Homo sapiens: one gene and its partners. The protein of the gene in region 1 purifies or fractionates together with the protein of each later gene. This does not show direct contact. Each region holds a gene or a part of one and is shown in the gene's direction. Other genes may lie near its edges. The genes, in order: EEF1G, EEF1A2, EEF1A1 and MKKS.

Region 1 (7,036 bases):
CTAGGTTACCCTGTATTCTGCTGAGGACTTGGAAAACAGCTAGAGGTGGGTGCAGTGGCTCATGCCTGTAATCCGAGCACACTGGGGGGCCGAGGTAGGCAGATCACCTGAGGTCAGGAGTTTGAGACCAGCCTGGCCAACATGGTAAAACCCTGTCTCTACTAAAAATACAAAAAATTAGCCAGGTGTGGTGGCGCACACCTATAGCCCCAGCTACTTGGGAGGCTGAGGCACAAGAATCACTTGAATCTGGGAGGTGGAGGTTGCAGTGAGCAGCGATCGCCCCACTGCACTCCAGCCTGGGTGAGAGTGAGACTTCGTGTCAAAACAAACAAAAAACAGCCAGGAATCCCAGGACTGAGTACCATCACTTGCTTTCCATTCTCTTAAGAAGCTGGGTAATGTCTTGCCTTTAGTTTCTGTTTGGCAGCTAAGATGTTTAGTTTGTTGCCATATTTCCTGGGAAGATTGGTTATTCTTAGTTGTGAAGACAGAGGTGATGATGGTAGCTTCAGCATTAAGATCTTTTTGGAGGCAGGCCAGGCACTGTGTCTAACACCTATAATCCCAGCACTTTGGGAGGCCTAGGCGGGTGGATCACTTGAGGTCAGGAGTTCGAGACCATCCTGGCCAGCATGGCGAAACCCTGTCTCTATTAAAAATACGAAAATTAGCCGGGCGTGGTGGTAGGAGCCTGTAATCCCAGCTACTTGGGAGGCTGAGGCAGGAGAATGGCTTGAACCCAGGAGGTGGAGGTAGCAGTGAGCCAAGATCCAGCTACTGTGCTCCAGCCTGGGGGACAAGAGCGAGACTCCATCTCAAAAAAAAAAAAAAAGCTCTTTAAGCTCTTTTGGAGACAGATACAGGTTCAAGCCTTGGCTTCATTGTTTACCAATGTAGGTAAGGGGTTATATGCGGGTGAATTCCTTTAGTCCTGTTTTTTACTCTTTGCAATCTATAAAATCAGGGTAGTAATAATCACTGTCAAGGTTATTGGGTCAAAAAAGAATGACAAGTCACTGGTTTCCAAATAAAAGCTCTTGGACTGATGCTGGTCCAGAATAGTAATGTGATCATAGCAAAAGAAAAAACACTTACTGCATGCCAGACCCTGTGCCAGGGGCCTCATGGGGATCATCTTAGTGAGTGAATCTACTAAGTGGTAGAGTAGAATTTGAACCCAAGTACTGTGGAACCAGCACTCTGACTGCTGTGTTCTGTTTCCATGACAAGATTTTTTTTCCTCTTCTGGTCTTTGCAAACTAAAAAATGACAACAGTTCTACCTGAAGCTTTGCAAACTGAAAACTGACAACAGTTCTACCTGAAGCTGTTTATTCTTATTTTTCTTTGACCATGCTTAATACACCAGACACTAAGTTTAATTTGAAGGACTGTCCATTATTTATTTATTTATGTATTTATTTTGACAGAGTCTTGCTCTGTCACCCAGGCTGGAGTGCAGTGGCACGATCTTGGCTCATTGCAACCTCCACCTCCCAGGTTCAAGCGATTCTCCTGCCTCAGCCTCCCAAGTAGCTGGGATTACAGGCATGCGCCACCAAACCCGTCTAATTTTGTATTTTTAGCAGAGATGGGGTTTTGCCATGTTGGTCAGACTGGTCTTGATCTCCTGAGGACCTCAGGTGATCCACCCGCCTCGGCCTCCCAAGTGCTGGGATTGCGGGGGTGAGCCACCACACCCAGCCAGGACTGTCCATTATTCTAAATGCGTTTGAATATTTTCTTTGAATGTTCTTTACTTTCTGAAGTTTGATGGATGGGTGGGTGTGGGGGGTGTGTGTGTGTGTGTGCGTGTGTGTATAGTATGGCCAATATAGATAGTAAATACCTATAGTGTTTAGATTTTATTTGGCAAAAAAGTCCTCGATAGCCCTCTGTGGGTCTCAATCTTTTTTTTTTTTTGAGACGAAGTCTCGCTCTTGTCCCCCAGGCTGGAGTGCGATGGCGCGATCTCGGCTCACTGCAACTTCTGCCTCCCGGGTTCAAGTGATTCTCTTGCCTCAGCCTCCTGAGTAGCTGGGATTACGGGCATGTGCAACCATGCCTGGCTGATTTTTGTATTTTTAGGAGAGGCGGGGTTTCACCATGTTTGCCAGGCTGGTCTCGAACTCCTGACCTCAGGTTATCTGCCCGCCTCGGCCTCCCAAAGTGCTGGGATTATAGGCGTGAGCCACCGCTCCTGGCCGACGTTTGAAATTTAAAAGATTGGAAACAGTAGATCTGAAATAGTTTTGTAAAGGAGCAAGACAATTATTACTCCTACTCCTAAATGGAGGATGGACCCAAGCATCCATCCATTAAACTGGACTACACTGAAAAAAAAGATTAGAAAAAGAAATGGAGGCCAGGTGTGGTGGCTCACGGGTAATCCCAGCACTTTAGGAGGCCAGGGCAGGAGGATTGCTTGAGCATGCGAGTTCAAGATAAGCCTGGGCAACATAGTGAGACCCCATCTCTATTAAAATTTTTTTTTTTTTTTTTTTTTTTTGAGACAGAGTCTCACTCTGTCACCCAAGCTGGAGTGCAGTGGCGTGATCTCGGTTCACTGCAACCTCCACCTCCTGGGTTTAAGTGAGTCTCCTGCCTCAGCCTCTGGAGTAGCTGGGACTACAGGCACGTGCCACCACGCCCAGCTAATTTTTTTTTTTTTGAGACAGAGTCACTCTGTCACCCAGGCTGGAATGCAGTGCCGCGATCTCCGCTCACTGCAAGCTCCGCCTCCCGGGTTCACGCCATTCTCCTGCCTTAGCGTCCCGAGTAGCTGGGACTACAGCTGCCCGCCATCACGCCCAGCTAATTTTTTTATTTTTAGGAGAGATGGGGGTTCACCGTGTTAGCCAGGATGGTCTCGATCTCCTGACCTCGTGATCCGCCCGCCTCGGAGATCCCAGCAGTTTGGGAGGCCGAGGTGGGCGGATCACTTGAGGTCAGAGTTCGAGAACAGCCTGGCCAACAGGGCGAAACCCCATCTCTACTAAAAGTACAAAAATTAGCTGGGTGTGGTGGCAGGCACCTGTAGTCCCAGCTACTCAGAAGGCTAAGGCATGGGAGGCTGAGGCACGAGAATCACTTGAACCCAGGAGATGGAGGCTGCAGTGAGCTGAGATCACGCCATTGCACCCCAGCCTGAGCGATAGAGTGAGACTCTGTCTCAAAAAAAAAAAAAATTGAAAAAAATGAAGAAATGGGAAGTAATCCAGGGAAGGATGATGTTGTATGAAGCTATTGTCTATAGGGTTTGAAAAGAAGGTGAGCACTGGGACTTAGGTAGAGCAAGGACTCTTGCTGTGAACAGAACTCTTCAGGGCCTTTCCACTGACTTTGTTTACACCCTTATGTCCTGGCAGGTTCTAGAGCCTTCTTTCCGCCAGGCCTTTCCCAATACCAACCGCTGGTTCCTCACCTGCATTAACCAGCCCCAGTTCCGGGCTGTCTTGGGCGAAGTGAAACTGTGTGAGAAGATGGCCCAGTTTGATGGTGAGTCTGAGGAGACTGGGAGGCATATGGCCAGGATCAGGGTCTGGTTTGCTCTGCATCAACCCCTTGATTTCCTGTCTTGCTTTTGGGTTATGGGGACCTGCAGAATGTAGGGTGTCAATGTGGTAGCTAATATTATGTGCAGTTTCGTGTACACTCATACCCTGACTAATTTGTATTACTATATAGATTTGCGATATAAAGTATTTGTTGCTGAGTGTGTTGTTGCTGGAGGACACACAGTGAACTGATGAGCAGTCTGGGGCCTAAGTTCCTTACTTGTCCCATTCGTCAGTTTCCTCTGTTACCTTGCTTGCTCTGTGTGGTTTTGGAGGGGTGTGGAAAGAGGCAGAACATTCGTTCACTTTCCTGCCTTCCTCTGCACCAGCTAAAAAGTTTGCAGAGACCCAACCTAAAAAGGACACACCACGGAAAGAGAAGGGTTCACGGGAAGAGAAGCAGAAGCCCCAGGCTGAGCGGAAGGAGGAGAAAAAGGCGGCTGCCCCTGCTCCTGAGGAGGAGATGGATGAATGTGAGCAGGCGCTGGCTGCTGAGCCCAAGGCCAAGGACCCCTTCGCTCACCTGCCCAAGAGGTAAGGATATTGGAGGGTGGAGGGTGTGGGACCAAAGAAGGCCTGTTCTCACCTCTGTATGTCCCCCCTCACACACAGCTAGAGCCAGAATTTTAGGTTGTCCATATAAAGTTAAAGGTATATTTTAGTTGCAAATAAAGCAGCTTTCTGGCTGATAATCAGGAATTGGGCAAATTTTGATTGTGGAGAGCAAGTTTCAAGTACAGCCAGTACTGGGGAAGATTGAACTCCTATTCCAACAAAGACAGGAACAGATTTTGATATAGTGGTAAGTTGGTTTTGAGCAAGCTCATTTGACCATTTGAGAGCTCTGAGAACAAATACAGGGAGAGGCGTGGGGAGGAAGAAAGTGCAGAGAGCCTTGCGGTGCGCCACGCGCCCGGCTGTGCGGAGATAGTGGATGCCAGAGCAGGGTCCTTTGAATTGTTTTGTTTTCTGTTTTGCTGAATCAGACTGTACAAAAATTGCTCACTAAGAAAAAGGATGAAGATCATAGCTAAGTAGTGTCTGTCTAGTTCATTGTTCCACAACCGAGTAAAGTCCCCAAGTAGAAGAAAGTAGGTGTCCTCTGTATCCCTTTTTCAGTTAAAGGTAGGGCTTCTTGGAAGAAATAATATAGTAAAAACGAGATTTTTGGCATGAAAAATGTAGGACGCTGAGTGCTTGCCCAGTTCTCTGGGATGGAGTCTTTCTTCCATCACTGCTCCAAGTCATTTTATTGGGAGTTCAAGCAGTTTGAGAAATATATATTCTGTGGTCACTTTGCTTTGGAACTCCTCTTTCTCTGTACTTTTTCCTCCCACTCACCCTGTCATTTCCAAAGCCGTTCATCTTTTTACTGCTTGGTCTGCTAGGGTTTACATTTCACCCTCTCCCATCTTGTAATGGCTTGGATACCGGGTGAACCAGCCTAAAGGAGCACCCACTGGTAGGGACACAGTAGCTGTGCATAGAATTGTGAATTACAAGCATTGCACTAATAGATGGGAGCAACTTGGGGTATAGCTGAAAGTTCTTACTCCCGGGTATTTTGTACAAGACCAGGAAGGCTCCATCCAGACACAGGCACTCTTTAAAGATGTATTTTTTGAACTAGTGATTTGCCTTGAATTTAGCACAGGTGCAGGTCAAGAGTGAGCAGGATTTTTGGTGTGTGTAAATAGGTCATGATAATTAACCCAAATTACATATTGTGTTGTAACTCAGACGTTGTTAATTATTAGCTAGAGATTTTCACATATAGTAGGTCAGTACTCTGGGCAGGAAATAAATGAGGCAGTAGTAAACTTAAAATCTTTATTTAATAAACTTTACATTTTCTTAACATGGTTTTGGGAATGTTTATTAATGTCTATTTATTGGGTTACCATGATGCCCTACAGGGCTGCCAGAAATGCTTTCCCCAAGGTTTTTTTTTTTGGAAACAGGGTTTTACTTTGTTGTCCAATCTGGAGTGCAGTAGCGTGATCACGGCTCACTGCAGTCTTGACCTCCTGTACTCAAGCGATCCTCCCACCTCAGCCTCTGGAGTAGCTGGGACAAAGGCACACACCACCACACCCAGCTAATTTTTTATTATTTGTAGAGACTAGGTCTCACTATGTTGCCCAGGCTGGTCACAAACTCCTGGGCTCAAGTGATCCTTGGCCTCTCAAAGTGCTGGAATTACAGGTGTGAGCCACTGTACCTGGCTCCTTTTTGTGTTTTTTGTTTTTTTTTGGTTTGTTTGTTTGGAGACAGAGTCTCACTCTGTCACCCAGGCTGGAGTGCAGTGGTGTGATCTCAGCTCACTGCAACCTCCGCCTCCCCAGTTCAAGCGATTCTCCTGCCTCAGCCTCCCGAGTAGCTGGGACTACAATGACAGGCGCGTGACACCACGGCTGGCAAATTTTTTGTATTTTTAGTAGAGACGGAGTTTCACCGTGTTAGCTAGGATGGTCTCAATCTCTTGACCTCGTGATCCGCCCACCTTGGCCTCTCAAAGTGGTGGGATTACAGGTGTGAGCTACCGTGCCTGGCCCCCTTTTTTTTTTTTTTTTTTTTTTTTGAGATGGAGTCTGGCTCTGTCGCCCAGGCTGGGATGTAGTGGTGCAATCTTGGCTCACTGCAACCTCCACCTGCCGGGTTCAAGCAGTTCTGCTTCAGCCTCTTGAGTAGCTGGGACTACAGGCACGCACCACCATGCCCAGCTAATTTTTTGTATTTTTAGCAGAGACAGGGTTTCACCATGCTGGGCAGGCTGGTCTCGAACTCCTGACCTCGTGATCCGCCCGTCTCCGCCTCCCAAAGTGCTGGGATTACAGATATGAGCCACTGCTCCCGGCCTTTTTTTTTTTTTTTGTGAGACAGAGTCTCACTCTGTTGCCCAGGTTGAAGTGCAGTGGTGTGATCTCGGCTTACTGCAGTCTCCGCCTCCTGGGTTGAAGCAATTCTCCTGCCTCAGCCTCCCGAGTAGCTGGGGATTGCAGGTGCGTGCCACCATGCCTGGCTAATTTTTGTATTTTTAGTAGAGATGGGGTTTCACCATGTTGGTCAGGCTGGTCTCAAACTCCTGACCTCAGGCAATCCGCCTGCCTTGGCCTCCCAAAATGCTGGGATTACAGGCGTGAGCCACCGCCCCTGGCTCCCCCAACATTTTTAATGTCATAAAAGTGATATCCTAAAAGACCAAGACTATTAATGTCCAGATTTTAATTCTAGTTCTTTTAAGACCCAGCTAGGTCAACTGCAGTGGCTCATACTACTTGGCAGGCTGAGGTGAGAGGGTCACTTGAGTCCAGCAGGTTGAGGCTGCAGTGAGCCATGATCGTGCCCCTGCACTTGGGTGACTGAGCAAGACCCTGTCTCAAAACAAATAGCTTGAACAGTTCAGGAGGGTGTGAAAAAATTCCCAGCCCCAGTTTTGGTGTGGTTGAGGTTTTAAGGCTCCTCAGATGAGGTCTC
Region 2 (7,139 bases), on another chromosome or scaffold:
GGCACTGGAGGGCACAGCGCCCCTGTGCTGGCACCAGGGGCTGCCCTTCTTGGGTCCAAGAGGTGACCCCACCCTGGTCGGTGACCCCGGCCTCCTGTTTAGCCTCCCAGCCTGCAATGGGCTGTAATGGCCAGGGGCCGGGAGGGGCTAGCGGGGACTGCAGCTGGAAGCCCAGAAGCCCAGAAAGTGCTGCTTGCGGCAGGAGCACGTGCTGTCTGCTCCCCACCAGGGTGGGTGCTGGGCTCCCGGGCAGCAGGGCCTGGAGGGAGGGCATCCTGCTGCTGCTGCCTCTCACCATGGCAACGCTCCCTGCTGGGGCCTGCAGGTCGGGGTGGCAGGCCAGGCCGCCCTTCCCCCTGGCGGAGGGGCTGCATCCCTCCTGGGCCTCCCTGGTAGACTCAGGTCTGCCTCAGGCACACCCAGATACCGGGTTGGAGGGTGGGCTGTCGGGGCCGTGGCTGGCCCTGGTCTGTGGCCTGACCTGCAGGCATGTTTGCCCGCTGCCAGCCCAGCCCCAGCTTCTCTGATCTGGGGGGACATGAGCTGCTCCTCTAAGGGAGGCTCCAGAGGCAGGAGCTCCTCTGCTGCCATGGAGACTGTTTAATTCGCTGCCTCAAGGGCATGCTCAGTCCCCTGGGAGCCAGCCCCAAGGCATGGCCGCGGGGGTGGGCCTTGTCCTGGTGGCCGTCCAGGGGGCCCAGGTGGGCCAGCAGACGAGATGCTCCGTGACCGGAAAATGAATCCACACCTGCTCTGGGGCCAGGCCAGGGCTGAGGTCATCCTGTGACACTGGGGGCCAGAGAGCGGCCTTGGCCTTGCTCCCCACCCTGCCTCCAAGCCCCTGTCTGCCTCTGGGCTGCCAGCCTCCACCTGCCTGCGACGGTGGCCCCGGGGTGATGGCCTGGCTGTGCCCCATGCACAGGTGGTTCGTTAGGCACTCGGCGGCTATTATTAACCCAGCAGTGACGTCACCGGCAGCCAATGGGAGGCAGGTTTATTTCCAGGGCTGACAGCTTGATAGCGGTTAATTTTAGCTGCATCTTCTTTCCCGAGGCTCGTGAAACCCTAGCCAGCCAAAGAAGGGGTTGCCTGTGTCTCCCCAAACAGCTCAGGGATGGGTCCTGGGGGCTCTGGGAGGCGGCAAGGAGGGGCGGGGCCTGGGGGCTCTGGGAGGGGTCGAGGAGGGGCGGGGCCTGCCCCCAGGGAAGCCCTGATTGGCTGGTGCCCTCTTGACTCGCCATTTCCCCTCCCCCCACCCCCCCCAGGTTGTTGGTGAGGACGGCACTGTGACCAGGGACTCAGATGCAAGAAGAGGGGCCCAAGTCCTGACCTGGGGGAGGGCAGGGAAAGCACAGGCCACAGGCCCCCTTACTTGCTGCGTGTCCTTGGACAGGAATCTTGGCCTTTCTGTGCCCAGTTGCCTCACAGGTTCTCAAGGTCCTCCAGCCAGCCTTGTGGGGCCTACCTTGTAGCCTCTGTCCCCGCAGCCCCCATCCCCGCACACTGTGCACGTGCACGGCCCCCTGTCCCCCGTCCCCCACACTGTGAACTCACACAGCTGGGCGACTTGGCTGTGACTAATTAGGATGCTTGGTACTTGAAGTCATTTGGTGCTACCCGGCCATTGACAAGTGTTTTGCCTGCTTGTTGTGCTATGACAGAATACCTGAGACTGGGTAATTATACATTACTTAAATTTAAACATTTATAAAGTTTGCTTTATAAATTTATAAATTATTATAAGTAAACAGAAGTTTATTTCTCAGTCTGGAGGCCAGGAAGTCCAGGATCAAGGTGCTGCCATCTGGTAGGGCCTTCTTGCTGTGTCCTCACATGGGAGAAGGCGGAAGAGCAAGAGAGAACCCACTGCCATGAGTCCTGTTTATAGGGCACAAATCCATTCGGAAGGGCAAACCCTTTATGACCCAGACTCCTTCCCGAAAGCGCCAGCCCCCAACACTGTTGCATTGGGGATTAAGTTACAACTCGTGCACTTTGGGGACGTGGTCAGGCCACTGCCGTTATTCAGCAGTTAGCATTCCGTAGTTAGTAGCCATTCAGTCCTGTTCAGTCTCCGCGGTGGCTCGGAACCATCAGTGTGTTAGTGTTTAGCCTTGTGACCGCAGCCCCGTTAGCTGTGTGTTCCAAGTGTCTGCGGAACTGAGTCGGTGGCTCCCAGGACCCCGAGGGGCCACACCGTGGACCAAACGTGTCCTGGCGCCTGGGAGACCCTTTGGAGCAGCCACCGACACCCTTGCCCAGAGTCAGCACACAGGTGCTTTGGGGAGGTTGCCACATTCCACTCTCAGGGGCCACTCCTGTGGGTGGCAAGGCCCCACGGCACATGTGAGCCCCTGGCACTGCTATGGGTGAGCCGGGAGCCGAGGGGGAAGGGGTGTCTGGAAAAGGTAGCCCAGAGTCCTGGTGATCCCTTGGGGGAGTGGGGTGGGCATCCCCGGGACCCCGGCCTGGGCCACTCGAGCACCTGCAGCAAGCCCACTTCCAAATCCCTGCCTAACCTTCAGGCTGCAGGGGAGGCGTTAAATATAGAGACCAGCTGGGTGGGGTGGGGCGGGCCTTGCTTTCTTGCCAGGCGGTTATTTTTATTCCTGGCTCCTGTTTGACGGCATCGGCAGCACTCGGAAGTGCCGGGGCACCTAGCAGGCCCTCCCTGCCTCCTCTCCTGCCTGTGGCCCAGGAGCCCAAGTCCCTGGACTCCTATGGGGCAGACGCAGCCACAGACCAGGGTCCTCCTGAGAGGCCCTCTCCACAGGCTGGGGAGAACTGTTTGGCCCCGACCCTGGGCCCCCACCTTTCCTTCCTCCTCACACCTGCCAGCAGGCCAGGTAGGGGTCCAGTCGCTGGGGATCCCCATGGATTTGCCCAGTCGCAGCTGCTGGGCCCGACCCGGGGCCTCCATGTCAACACCCAGTGGGAACTCAGGGCTGAGAGGACAGGTGCCAGGGCTCTGCCCCCACTCAGCACACACCTCCCGAGACCCCGCTGGCAGGAAGATCCGAGTGCGTGGGGGTGGGGGGGCAGCGTGGGAGGGAAGACCTGAATACCTGGGTGAGACGACAGGATCTTGGGGTCTGGAGAAAGCCCCTAACCTTGGTCTTCACACAACACATGGCTGCCACATCCCCTTCCTCACAACCCACGTTGGTCATTACCCGCGTGTGCCAGGACCTCAGGGACTCCCCACTTCCTACAGAGCGTGGCCCGGTCTTTGGCTTGGCATCCTGACCCCATATGAGCATCAGCTACAAGGCGCTGAGGTGCAGCGGGGTGGGGCGCTGGGCGGGGGGGCCTGGGTCTGTCTGGATCTGACTCGCCCTTGGCTGGCGCTGTTTCCCAGCAGCAGCCGGAGGTCGGCGCACCCGGAGGGGAGGGTCCCTGGAAGATGTCAGTGGGTCTGGGAGCGGGCTTCCGGCGTTCCCTGCACCGTGGGAGACCAGCCTCTCAGGGGGAGGGTGGTTCTGCGCTGGATCCTCGGGGCCTGTCATGGTGCGCCCAGGAGGGCAGGCACGTGAGGACAGGGACTGGAAACCAGCAGATTTCCACCCTGAGGCCTGCACCCCCGGGCCTCATTAGGGAGAGCCCCTCAGAGCCGGGCTTCGTTGGTTCTGGGGCGTCCCCCATGAGCAGGGCCGGGGAGGGGCCGGTAGACCCAGGCTCGTCTCCCAGGCTGCAGCCCACCTGCTCCCCTCCCCCGCCTGCCGGCTCCGGTCCTCGGCGTCTGCCCTGTCCCCGGGGACCGCTTTTCGCGGCTCAAGCGTGTTCCTGCCCTGAGCCGGCTCTCGCCCCGTCTCCCGGGCCCGCCGCGCTCTCCCCGCGCCGTCTCCGTCCCGGTCCCTCCCTCCCGCCGCCTCCCTGCCCTGCCCCCCGCCCCGCCCCCGCCCGCGGCGCGTTTCTCCCCCGCCTCCCGCGTCCGTCTTTGCAGCCCGCGCCTCCCGCATCGCCTCGCGTCCCCGTGGCGCCCGCCCGCGCGCGTCCGCGCCCCGCCCCCTCCCGCGCGGTTCCGCATTGGCGTGCTGCAGGGCGCGGTGCACTGCGCCGCCACCGTCAATAGGTGGACCCCCTCCCGGAGATAAAACCGCCGGCGCCGGCGCCGCCAGTCCCTCTGGCTGAGACCTCGGCTCCGGGTAAGGACGCTCGGCCCCCGGGCCTCCGCCCCCGCCCCCGTCTTCCGAAGAGGGACCCCCGGGGCCGGTCCTGGGGGGCAGAGGGTGGCCGGGCCCCGCACCCGCCCCCGCGCGCGCCCGGAGTCCGGCTTCCGGGGGTCCCCGCGTCGGCCGGGCTGGGCCCGGGGTGGGGGGCGGCGCGGGGCGGCGGGGCCGGGTCCTGGGCGGCGATCGCCCCGTAGCCGTGACCTTGGGGCCGCGGGGACCCTGCGGGCCGGGGGCTGATGGGGGTCGGGCTTCGGGGCGCTGGGCCAGAGGACGCTGAGGGAGGTGGTGAGATCTGGGGGCCCTGGCCTCCCCACCCCCACCCGTGTTCCCACCCCAGGGTGGCTTCTGTCCTCTTTCCCTCCCCCAGCCACCTGTCCGCGAGGAGCAGCGTGGGTTTCTCCACTGACCTCTGTGATGGGACAGGGCTGTGACCCAGGGTCCTGAGTCACAGGGAGGGGGGGAGGGAGGGTGCCCCCTATACCCCCACGGGGCCGAGGGCATCTCCACCTGGCACTTGCTGGGCTCGGCAGGGCCGGGTCCTCCTTCCTCAGGCTGGAACAGGGACCCCCACCTCCCGGCCGCTGTCTGTCCCTGTGAGAGTCCGGGAGGGGGGTGCCTAGAGCTATTCTGGGTTCCTAATCTGGGCAGCGCATCTCCGTCGGGGCTCTGGCCCAGCCTGCCGGGCAGGGATGAGGGGAAGATGGCGCCGTCCCTGCCTGAGGAGGGGAGTGGGGAGCAGTGGCCATCTCTCCCCGGTGGCAGCGGGTGGGGGTGGGGCGCCGTGTCCCTGGCCCTGCCGCCGGGGAGGGGAGTGCGCGTGCAGGACAGGGCCCTGGAGCGCTGGGCAGGTGACTCATCACCCGGCTCTGCTGGTCACGGACGTACCCAGCCTGGCGCTGCGTGGTCTCTCCAAATGGTGGCTAACCCCTTCCCAAGGAGCAGCCCGCGGGCTCCAACGCCCAGTTATTTACAGCAGATGGGGCTGTTTGGGCTCAAGTGTGGGGTGGGGGCAGTGCACAGCCTCTGCTTGCCCTGGCCAGGCCCAGCTGTGGGTGGGGGCCCTTCCCTCCCCACCAAACATGGGGGCTTGGTTTGTGGGCAGGGATGCCTGTCCAGCCTGTGCCAGGACAGTCTCTGCTGGTGTCTCCCCCTGGGGCTCCCCATCACCGGTCTCCCCACCACCACTGGCCCCACAGAATCACTGCAGCCCCCCTCGCCCTGAGCCAGAGCACCCCGGGTCCCGCCAGCCCCTCACACTCCCAGCAAAATGGGCAAGGAGAAGACCCACATCAACATCGTGGTCATCGGCCACGTGGACTCCGGAAAGTCCACCACCACGGGCCACCTCATCTACAAATGCGGAGGTATTGACAAAAGGACCATTGAGAAGTTCGAGAAGGAGGCGGCTGAGGTGAGCTCCCCAGGCTATGGTCTTGGCCCCCTGAGAAGGAACCCCCAACTCCCGTGGTGGCCAGGCTTGGCATCTCCCAGCCCCAGGGCATGGGGCTCAGGTGACCTCCTCCAGGGCAGGAGGGACCCCCGCTGTGGGGCACTCAGGCCTCAGAGGGTCTGGTGGGGCAGCCTCTCTCTTAGGGGGAGCTTGGTGGGGGAGGGGTGGCCATCGAGCTGCCGGACTTGCCCTGTGGTGAGGGAGGTGACCTGGGAGGGTCTGCAGAAGGCTCTGGAACTCTGCCATGTTGAGCTGGGGCTGGAGGGCGCTGGAGCCTTACCCCCTTCCCCCCAGGGCCAAGGCTGGGGCTGGAGATGGTACTGCCCTCACTTGTCCTAGGGCCCTGCCAGGGCACACGCTACTATTAATAGCTGATTGATGGGCAGCCGGCCCGTCTGCTCCATTTTCTTGTGCTGGGCTGTGGAGGGCTGCTGTCCAGGGCAGCCCTGGGGTGGGGGTCCTGGATGAGGTGACCTCCTAGCTGACCTTTTGAAGCGATTTCTCTTTGGTGGCTGAGACGGTGGTGGGGAGCGGTCATGAGACGGGGTCTGCTCTCTGATCCCCATCCCCCACCCAGGACTCTGGGGAGAAGCCCACTCCTGGGAGGGCCTGTGGGAGCTCTCACCTGGATGATGAGGGCGGAGGCCAGGGCCCAAGGTGGGGGCACTCGCTGTCCTGGGCTGAGCCTCTGCCCTGGCGGGGTTGGGGGTGCTCTGAGCTGCACCCCTGAGTTTGGGCTGCATCACCCTTTACCTGGCCTTGTCAGGAGGAGGCGGGGGTTTCAGAGGGCCGCTGTTTCAGGCCCCAGCTGGGTCCCATCTGGGTCTGCTCCAGACTGGGCAGCCTCCTGGAGGGCAGAGTCCTGTCTGTGCGAGGCCCTGGCGAGGAGTTCTGCCCAGCTGGGTAGTGACCGCCGCTGCTGCCCTGACTGAAGCCCGTCCCCTTCTGTGGGGGTCTCACTGGCCGAGGCCCCCCAGCTTCCCGTGTCCGGCAGAGCGAGGAAGGGGAGGAGAAGCCTCAGAGGGATGGGGAGGCTGGAGCAGCGGGAAGGAGCTGCGTGGCCAGGCCCTCCTCCTGACCTCATTCAGTTTTCCTTTCTCCTTACCTTAAAAAAACACACACACACAGAGGGTTATTTATCTGACAGCCCCAAACACGGTGGTATTATTGGCCTCTGGTTGAGGAAGGGATCTGGGGGCGTCCGCAGCTTCAGATAAAGGGGAGCCCTCGCCCGGGAGGGGTTTATCCCATCTGGCGGCTTCGCTCGTAGAGCGAGCGACTCCCAGGCCCTTGCGCCACCTGCTGGTGGACCTGCGTAGCCGCGCCCATTTCGGAGCAGGTGCGGAGGCCGGCCCTGGGGGGCAGGGTCTGGGTGTGGGGTCCCGACGGAGGGGGCCGGCGTCCCAGGACCCCGACGGAGAGCAAGGGGGTGCTGGAGCCCATCTCCCGCCTCTCGCGGCCACTCTGCTGTAACAAGCAGCTCGCACCACCAGGGACTCCTGGGTCCCGGGTCCCGC
Region 3 (6,855 bases), on another chromosome or scaffold:
AAAAAATTGGATTCTCAGTCCAAATAGTTCCTTGGCTTAATCATATTCTAAAATACCCCTTTAAAAAAAAAAATATATATATATATATATATAGTTTTTTCTGAGATGCAGTCTCACTTTGTTACCCAGGCTGGAGTGCAGTGGCACGATTTCTGCTCACTGCAACCTCCTCCTCCCGGGTTCAAGCAATTCTCCTGCCTCAGCCTCCCAAGTAGCTGTGATTATAGGTGCACACCACCAAGCCTGGCTAATTTTTATATCTTTAGTAGAGACGGGAGTCTCACCATGTTGGCCAGGCTGGTCTCGAACTCTTACCTCAGGTGATCCGCCTGACTCGGCCTCCCAAAGTGCTGGGATTACAGGCGTGAGCCACCGCACCGGGCCATCATCTTTTCTTCAGAGGTAGCTACAGCAGATGAAAAGATTTAAAAATCATTTTCACGTGGCAAGCCATGGTAAAATGTAACTATTTAAGGCTGCTTTAAATTAGACTAATAGCAGAGTGGTCAGACTATACTGAAAGCTTGGTGAATCACAATTAAGTACCTCAAAGAACTATTCTTGTTTGCCTTATTCCTATGTAAATAACTGAAATCTTTGTTTTTCTTCCTAAAAGGGGTCATGTTGATTTTTACTTACAATGTATTTTAAGTTTGTCACTCTAAATGGTTATGAGCAAGTTTAAGAAAAATCTTCAGCAAATACTACCTTAGATTATGACCCCAAAACACATTTACGAGCCTCAACATCGTTACTGTTACCGCTTTAACATTTAAGGCAGTAAAAAGCATACTGGATCTCTGTAAAGGCGTAGGGGTGCGGGGAATCCGTTATGATTATGTTGAAAACATAGGGTCTGGGGAAAAAGGGATTTAAAATAAGAAGAAAAAGAAGACTTGGGACTTAAAAAGTCTTTTAGAGGCCAGCTCACGGTGACAAAAACCGACCCTCACCCCGAGCCACGTGAGGTTTTCTGCTTCCTCCCAGGCCCTTCCTTCCGCAGTCAGAAGGCGGAAGAAAAGTTACCTCAAGGTGGGGCGAGTGGCAGGGCGGACCCTGGCGACCTGACGCTGCGGAGGCTCGAGCGGCGTATCCATACCACCCAGCTGTTCGCCGCGGGAACCCGCCGGCCCGCAGGTGACCCAGCGCTGGAAAAACGCCAGCGACGTGGCCTGGCGAGCTGGCGCGGGGCAAGGACCACCCGCGCCCGCCTTGCCGCCCCAGCCTCCCTCCCTAGGAAGCAGGGTGCGCCCCGGTGCGCGCGGGGCTTCCCCGGACCGGCGTTCCAGTCCCTCTCCGGCTTCCGGCCCACCCCGGCCCCACTGAGAGCAGAAATGTGATCTCTGCCCTGAGAAAATGCTCGTGGCCAGTGACTACCCCTAACGCACAATAATATGGCTCCGATGGGCTCAAAGGTATTGGTTTTTTGTTTTGTTTTGAGACAAGGTCTCACTCGGTCGCCCAGGCTGGAGTGCAATTGCGTGATCTTGACTCACTGCAACCTCCGCTTCCCGGGCTCAAGCGATTCTCCTGCCTCAGCCTCCCAAGTAGCTGGGATTACAGGCATGCGCCACCACGCCCGGCTAATTTTGTATTTTCAGTAGACAGGGTTTCACCATGTTGGCCAGGCTGGTCTCGAACTCCTGGCCTCAAATTATACGTCCGCCTCGGCCTCCCAAGGTGCTGGTATTATAGGCGTGAGCCACCGCGCCCGGTCCAGTGTTGGTTCTTAAACGCGAGAATTGAGATCTCCCTTCACCTAATGAAAGTCTCGGCCACTATCGCAACATTCAGAACACCCAGTCTGTGTTGCACAATATGTTACTTAGGTATAAATCAAGGATTCATGTAATTTTGTCATTCCTTGCGTGATATTTTAAAAAACATTCTGTGTAAGGTATTTATAAAGCGTTTACTATTATCCGCAATCACAGGGGCTTGAGGAAAAACTTTGACTGTGGCCGGGCACCGTGGCTCACGCCTGTAATCCCAGCACTTTGGGAGACCGAGCCGGGTGGATCACTTGAGGTCAGCAGTTCGAGACCAGCCTGGCCAACATGGTGAAACCCCCGTCTCTTCTAAAAATACAAAAATTTGTGGGGCGCGCTTGTAGTCCCAGCTACTTGGGAGGCTGAGGCAGGAGGAATCGCTTGAACTCGGGAGGCAGAGCTTGCAGTGAGCCGAGATCGCGCCACTGCACTCCAGCCTGGGCAACAGAGTAGAACTCCGTCTCAAAAAAAAAAAAAAAAAAGAAAGAAAGAAAAAAAAGTGGACTGTGAAAACTGAAAGGACTAGAAAAACTACACTACAAAGATACAGAAACCAAGAAAGCACCATAGCGTTTGCCTTCAACTGCTTCCCAACTTGTTTTCCTCTTCCAATTTGATTGTGGTTTCCTCTCCAGAAGGAACTCCACAGTACTTAGCGTTGGCCACATAGTAGGTTCTCAAATACTTGTTAATAAATAAGTTTGTTCGAGAAGCTGGGCAATGATATTCTACAGCTGGAAGAAGAAACATAATGATCTAGTAATTAGCTCATTAAAAATAAACGTTCTTCTTTCCTCAGAGGAGCATTTCCCAAGGCCTGCCTTGATAGCCATCCAAAAAGGCCAAGCTCATCCAATCTTGCCCTAGATTTATGCTAAAATGCAGTTACAATCGATAGGATGACAGAAAACGACAGCACTTATTTAAATATAATAGGCACTTATTTAAATAGGAGAAGCTGTGACTTCATAGCAAGTGTTGGGGTTAGGAAACTGGGTGGATAAACTTGCTGATGCTGTAGATCTTAGCCTCTACATGAGATCATGTGGAAAATCTGAAAGCATTTTAGGTTCCTTATGTTTGCAATCAAATAACTGTACACCTTTTAATTTAAAAAGTACCATGAGGCACACACACACACTCGCAGGAACTTTTTGGCGTAACAAAACTAGAATTAGATCTAAAGCTAACTGTAGGACTGAGTCTATTCTAAACTGAAAGCCTGGACATCTGGAGTACCAGGGGGAGATGACGTGTTACGGGCTTCCATAAAAGCAGCTGGCTTTGAATGGAAGGAGCCAAGAGGCCAGCACAGGAGCGGATTCGTCGCTTTCACGGCCATCGAGCCGAACCTCTCGCAAGTCCGTGAGCCGTTAAGGAGGCCCCCAGTCCCGACCCTTCGCCCCAAGCCCCTCGGGGTCCCCGGGCCTGGTACTCCTTGCCACACGGGAGGGGCGCGGAAGCCGGGGCGGAGGAGGAGCCAACCCCGGGCTGGGCTGAGACCCGCAGAGGAAGACGCTCTAGGGATTTGTCCCGGACTAGCGAGATGGCAAGGCTGAGGACGGGAGGCTGATTGAGAGGCGAAGGTACACCCTAATCTCAATACAACCTTTGGAGCTAAGCCAGCAATGGTAGAGGGAAGATTCTGCACGTCCCTTCCAGGCGGCCTCCCCGTCACCACCCCCCCCAACCCGCCCCGACCGGAGCTGAGAGTAATTCATACAAAAGGACTCGCCCCTGCCTTGGGGAATCCCAGGGACCGTCGTTAAACTCCCACTAACGTAGAACCCAGAGATCGCTGCGTTCCCGCCCCCTCACCCGCCCGCTCTCGTCATCACTGAGGTGGAGAAGAGCATGCGTGAGGCTCCGGTGCCCGTCAGTGGGCAGAGCGCACATCGCCCACAGTCCCCGAGAAGTTGGGGGGAGGGGTCGGCAATTGAACCGGTGCCTAGAGAAGGTGGCGCGGGGTAAACTGGGAAAGTGATGTCGTGTACTGGCTCCGCCTTTTTCCCGAGGGTGGGGGAGAACCGTATATAAGTGCAGTAGTCGCCGTGAACGTTCTTTTTCGCAACGGGTTTGCCGCCAGAACACAGGTAAGTGCCGTGTGTGGTTCCCGCGGGCCTGGCCTCTTTACGGGTTATGGCCCTTGCGTGCCTTGAATTACTTCCACGCCCCTGGCTGCAGTACGTGATTCTTGATCCCGAGCTTCGGGTTGGAAGTGGGTGGGAGAGTTCGAGGCCTTGCGCTTAAGGAGCCCCTTCGCCTCGTGCTTGAGTTGAGGCCTGGCTTGGGCGCTGGGGCCGCCGCGTGCGAATCTGGTGGCACCTTCGCGCCTGTCTCGCTGCTTTCGATAAGTCTCTAGCCATTTAAAATTTTTGATGACCTGCTGCGACGCTTTTTTTCTGGCAAGATAGTCTTGTAAATGCGGGCCAAGATCTGCACACTGGTATTTCGGTTTTTGGGGCCGCGGGCGGCGACGGGGCCCGTGCGTCCCAGCGCACATGTTCGGCGAGGCGGGGCCTGCGAGCGCGGCCACCGAGAATCGGACGGGGGTAGTCTCAAGCTGGCCGGCCTGCTCTGGTGCCTGGCCTCGCGCCGCCGTGTATCGCCCCGCCCTGGGCGGCAAGGCTGGCCCGGTCGGCACCAGTTGCGTGAGCGGAAAGATGGCCGCTTCCCGGCCCTGCTGCAGGGAGCTCAAAATGGAGGACGCGGCGCTCGGGAGAGCGGGCGGGTGAGTCACCCACACAAAGGAAAAGGGCCTTTCCGTCCTCAGCCGTCGCTTCATGTGACTCCACGGAGTACCGGGCGCCGTCCAGGCACCTCGATTAGTTCTCGAGCTTTTGGAGTACGTCGTCTTTAGGTTGGGGGGAGGGGTTTTATGCGATGGAGTTTCCCCACACTGAGTGGGTGGAGACTGAAGTTAGGCCAGCTTGGCACTTGATGTAATTCTCCTTGGAATTTGCCCTTTTTGAGTTTGGATCTTGGTTCATTCTCAAGCCTCAGACAGTGGTTCAAAGTTTTTTTCTTCCATTTCAGGTGTCGTGAAAACTACCCCTAAAAGCCAAAATGGGAAAGGAAAAGACTCATATCAACATTGTCGTCATTGGACACGTAGATTCGGGCAAGTCCACCACTACTGGCCATCTGATCTATAAATGCGGTGGCATCGACAAAAGAACCATTGAAAAATTTGAGAAGGAGGCTGCTGAGGTATGTTTAATACCAGAAAGGGAAAGATCAACTAAAATGAGTTTTACCAGCAGAATCATTAGGTGATTTCCCCAGAACTAGTGAGTGGTTTAGATCTGAATGCTAATAGTTAAGACCTTACTTATGAAATAATTTTGCTTTTGGTGACTTCTGTAATCGTATTGCTAGTGAGTAGATTTGGATGTTAATAGTTAAGATCCGACTTATAAAAGTTTGATTTTTGGTTGCTTCTGTAACCCAAAGTGACTAAAATCACTTTGGACTTGGAGTTGTAAAGTGGAAACTGCCAATTAAGGGCTGGGGACAAGGAAATTGAAGCTGGAGTTTGTGTTTTAGTAACCAAGTAACGACTCTTAATCCTTACAGATGGGAAAGGGCTCCTTCAAGTATGCCTGGGTCTTGGATAAACTGAAAGCTGAGCGTGAACGTGGTATCACCATTGATATCTCCTTGTGGAAATTTGAGACCAGCAAGTACTATGTGACTATCATTGATGCCCCAGGACACAGAGACTTTATCAAAAACATGATTACAGGGACATCTCAGGTTGGTGGGATTAATAATTCTAGGTTTCTTTATCCCAAAAGGCTTGCTTTGTACACTGGTTTTGTCATTTGGAGAGTTGACAGGGATATGTCTTTGCTTTCTTTAAAGGCTGACTGTGCTGTCCTGATTGTTGCTGCTGGTGTTGGTGAATTTGAAGCTGGTATCTCCAAGAATGGGCAGACCCGAGAGCATGCCCTTCTGGCTTACACACTGGGTGTGAAACAACTAATTGTCGGTGTTAACAAAATGGATTCCACTGAGCCACCCTACAGCCAGAAGAGATATGAGGAAATTGTTAAGGAAGTCAGCACTTACATTAAGAAAATTGGCTACAACCCCGACACAGTAGCATTTGTGCCAATTTCTGGTTGGAATGGTGACAACATGCTGGAGCCAAGTGCTAACGTAAGTGGCTTTCAAGACCATTGTTAAAAAGCTCTGGGAATGGCGATTTCATGCTTACACAAATTGGCATGCTTGTGTTTCAGATGCCTTGGTTCAAGGGATGGAAAGTCACCCGTAAGGATGGCAATGCCAGTGGAACCACGCTGCTTGAGGCTCTGGACTGCATCCTACCACCAACTCGTCCAACTGACAAGCCCTTGCGCCTGCCTCTCCAGGATGTCTACAAAATTGGTGGTAAGTTGGCTGTAAACAAAGTTGAATTTGAGTTGATAGAGTACTGTCTGCCTTCATAGGTATTTAGTATGCTGTAAATATTTTTAGGTATTGGTACTGTTCCTGTTGGCCGAGTGGAGACTGGTGTTCTCAAACCCGGTATGGTGGTCACCTTTGCTCCAGTCAACGTTACAACGGAAGTAAAATCTGTCGAAATGCACCATGAAGCTTTGAGTGAAGCTCTTCCTGGGGACAATGTGGGCTTCAATGTCAAGAATGTGTCTGTCAAGGATGTTCGTCGTGGCAACGTTGCTGGTGACAGCAAAAATGACCCACCAATGGAAGCAGCTGGCTTCACTGCTCAGGTAACAATTTAAAGTAACATTAACTTATTGCAGAGGCTAAAGTCATTTGAGACTTTGGATTTGCACTGAATGCAAATCTTTTTTCCAAGGTGATTATCCTGAACCATCCAGGCCAAATAAGCGCCGGCTATGCCCCTGTATTGGATTGCCACACGGCTCACATTGCATGCAAGTTTGCTGAGCTGAAGGAAAAGATTGATCGCCGTTCTGGTAAAAAGCTGGAAGATGGCCCTAAATTCTTGAAGTCTGGTGATGCTGCCATTGTTGATATGGTTCCTGGCAAGCCCATGTGTGTTGAGAGCTTCTCAGACTATCCACCTTTGGGTAAGGATGACTACTTAAATGTA
Region 4 (2,750 bases), on another chromosome or scaffold:
TGAGTTTGTCTCTTGATGCCTTCTCTCTCAATGGAAGCCAGCTGTCATGTTGGGAACTGCCCCCTGGGGAGGCCCACATAGCAAGGGTTGAGGGAGGCTTCTAGCCAACAGCTCAAAAGGAACTGAATCGTACCAATAACCACAAGAGTGAATTTGGAAGCAGGTTCTCCCCAGTGGAACCTTGAGTTGAGTATAGCCCTACCACTGGAGCCACACGAGAGACCCTGATGCAAAAAAGCCAGCTAAGCTACTCCCAGGTTGGTTCCTAACCCACAAAATCTGTGAGATAATAAATGTTGTTTTAAGTCAAATTTGGGATGTACTTTCTTATACAGCAATAGCTATCTAATAAAGGCAGGAGGAAAAGCTTATTTGTAATAAATTATTTACTGAAAACTTGGTCACATAAATGGAAAAAAGCATTCTTGATGCCATGCCTTTGCATTTTTATCATCACCCCAACCTAAAAGAAGGGTTCTTTATCACATGTGTTTACAATGTGTCACATAGGAGTTGGGTATTGTCCTGGTTCTCTTTGCCCTTATCCTGCATTTTTTCAAGTTCCTCCAAGAAGGGGTGACACAGCGAACCTCTCCAATTGATCTTATAGATTAGGGGCTTCTACTTTTCACGATAGCCACTTTTTAAATTCTATCATTTTTAGCTTTGCCATACAATTTGATTACATTCCTTAGTGAAACATCAATGCTCTTATTTTGAATATATCACAAATTCGTTAAAATATATTTACAAATACCTCTATGTTTCCTAAAGTTATAATAATCCCTAGCAGAAAACACTGGAAATAGAAAAAAAGAGAAAAAAAACCTTCCTCTATAGTTCAAGAAAATTAGCGTTCAAACTTAGATGATAAAACATGAAATGAAAATTCTTGATGAAAATAATTTTAGAGGAGTTCCTTTTGGCAGAAATAAATGATAAGTAAAAATAGCAACTAAGGTAAGCCTCAGGCAGTGTTTTGTGACTTAAAGTAAGATTGAGGTCTGAATATTGCATTATGAAGTACCTCAGGAGAGAGAATGGGAAACCGTGATCGCTGTGGAAAAGGAAAGGGAGAGTGTGAAGAAGAAAATGAAGTCGGTGACAGCTGCTCAATAATTTCGTGGGACTCTCAGGACATGTAACATTAAACGTTATTCAACCATAGGAGTCCAACAGGATTATCATCTTATTAATCAAAAGGCATTAGGATTTTAGCAGCAAGGAAGAAAGTGGAGAGCTACAGCAAATAAAGGAAACTTTTAATCAAATACTTATTTGGTCTTATAGATATCCTACCCTTTAATTCTTCCATTTGTACCATATTAGAGAGTCTTTATATGTTAGACATTGTAAGTCAACTGTTAGACTGAAGCACTTTATGTAAGTGAAGTATTTTACACAAGATATTTAAACTATATCACATTAATATCTTTTATTATAGGTATCCTTGAACTCATTTGGTTTGTATTATCAAAGCTACTTAGGCATTTACATTGTAGACAAGAAATTTGAAGTAACCATAAATCAGCCATTGTACTATGTATTTTCATATTGTTGTTCATATTGTTGAGCAGTTCTTTGGATAACTTTAAAATAAAATAATGTTGTTTACCATCACATACATTATGCAGGTTATTTAAAATTATCATGTAAAAAATCAATGCAGGCCTTGACAAAACATACAATTAGTTAGGTTATTCCTTCCTGATAATCTTTGGGGAATAGTCAAAGAGACTAAACATCTCCTACAAGGCCCTGTTTCAGCTGTCTAAATAAAGCTATCTCTTAATCTGAAGGAAAAGTCAATTTTGAATATCTGATATCTTTATAATTTTTTTCATGTAGCTAAGTGCTTCCATTTAGTAACTATTGTATCCCATAATGGAAGTTTTTGCCAATCATCTACAGAATTTGAATTTAGATGCACCTAAACCCAATGTTAGCCTACTTTTGGATTATAAGTAGATTTATATGCTGCTTTACTAAGAATATAGTAATATTCATGAAAGAGAATGCAATCCCTGAAAACTATTCCTAAATGTAAGTGAAGCTGTTTGTTGGAGAGACGATTAGTCTTGGCGCACTAAAATCCATAGAATACTATATTACCTGTAATGAAGTGTGAATTTAGAGGGAAATAAAACAGCTTGACAATCTCCTATTAAAAATTCTCTTTGAGAAAATACTTATAATAAACATCTTATTTTAGCCATCTTGATTTTGTTTCTAGTATTGTGGTTTGATTTTGGGAAGTATTAATTGAGCCCTTTCTGTTTGCAGATAGGATAGTCAAGCGTATTTGGCGGTGAGAAGAGGAAAAAACAACACAGAAATTTGTTCACAGTCTCTGGCCTCAACAAGTTGATCATCTAGCCAGGGAGAATTTTTTTTTTTTTTTTTTTTTTTTTTTTTTGAGATGGTGTTTCGCTCTTGTTGCACAGGCTGGAGTGCAATGGCGCGATCTCAGCTCACTGCAACCTCCGCCTCCTGGGTTCAAGGATTCTCCTGCCTCCGCCTCCCGAGTAGCTGGGATTACAGGCATGTGCCACCATGCCCGGCTAATTTTGTATTTTTAGTAGAGATGGAGTTTCTCCATGTTGGTCAGGCTGATCTCGAACTCCTGACCTCATGTGATCTGCCCGCCTTGGCTTCCCAAAGTGCTGGGATTATAGGTGTGAGCCACCGCGCCTGGCCGAGATTTTTTTTTTTAATTATTAATTTTATAAGTTAAACATGTTGTAATAGAA

The links.
Region 2: the proteins of EEF1G (region 1) and EEF1A2 purify together in Homo sapiens (affinity purification with mass spectrometry; 6 studies listed by BioGRID and IntAct, with this or other methods). This does not show direct contact.
Region 3: the proteins of EEF1G (region 1) and EEF1A1 purify together in Homo sapiens (affinity purification with mass spectrometry; 7 studies listed by BioGRID and IntAct, with this or other methods). This does not show direct contact.
Region 4: the proteins of EEF1G (region 1) and MKKS purify together in Homo sapiens (affinity purification with mass spectrometry; 3 studies listed by BioGRID and IntAct, with this or other methods). This does not show direct contact.

Annotation. Positions count from the first base shown.
Region 1 is NC_000011.10:62,563,863-62,570,898, reverse strand, and holds part of EEF1G (elongation factor 1-gamma), read left to right. Parts: intron 1-3,370; coding exon 3,371-3,500; intron 3,501-3,827; exon of another isoform or gene 3,828-3,888; coding exon 3,889-4,093; intron 4,094-7,036. UniProt on the Homo sapiens protein: Probably plays a role in anchoring the complex to other cellular components.
Region 2 is NC_000020.11:63,496,064-63,503,202, reverse strand, and holds the start of EEF1A2 (elongation factor 1-alpha 2), read left to right. Parts: upstream 1-4,119; 5' UTR 4,120-4,145; intron 4,146-4,579; exon of another isoform or gene 4,580-4,921; intron 4,922-5,368; 5' UTR 5,369-5,439; coding exon 5,440-5,583; intron 5,584-7,139. UniProt on the Homo sapiens protein: Translation elongation factor that catalyzes the GTP-dependent binding of aminoacyl-tRNA (aa-tRNA) to the A-site of ribosomes during the elongation phase of protein synthesis.
Region 3 is NC_000006.12:73,518,007-73,524,861, reverse strand, and holds the start of EEF1A1 (elongation factor 1-alpha 1), read left to right. Parts: upstream 1-3,829; 5' UTR 3,830-3,862; intron 3,863-4,805; 5' UTR 4,806-4,835; coding exon 4,836-4,979; intron 4,980-5,345; coding exon 5,346-5,525; intron 5,526-5,633; coding exon 5,634-5,930; intron 5,931-6,013; coding exon 6,014-6,164; intron 6,165-6,251; coding exon 6,252-6,508; intron 6,509-6,597; coding exon 6,598-6,832; intron 6,833-6,855. UniProt on the Homo sapiens protein: Translation elongation factor that catalyzes the GTP-dependent binding of aminoacyl-tRNA (aa-tRNA) to the A-site of ribosomes during the elongation phase of protein synthesis.
Region 4 is NC_000020.11:10,400,480-10,403,229, reverse strand, and holds the end of MKKS (molecular chaperone MKKS), read left to right. Parts: 3' UTR 1-2,221; downstream 2,222-2,750. UniProt on the Homo sapiens protein: Probable molecular chaperone that assists the folding of proteins upon ATP hydrolysis. Plays a role in the assembly of BBSome, a complex involved in ciliogenesis regulating transports vesicles to the cilia.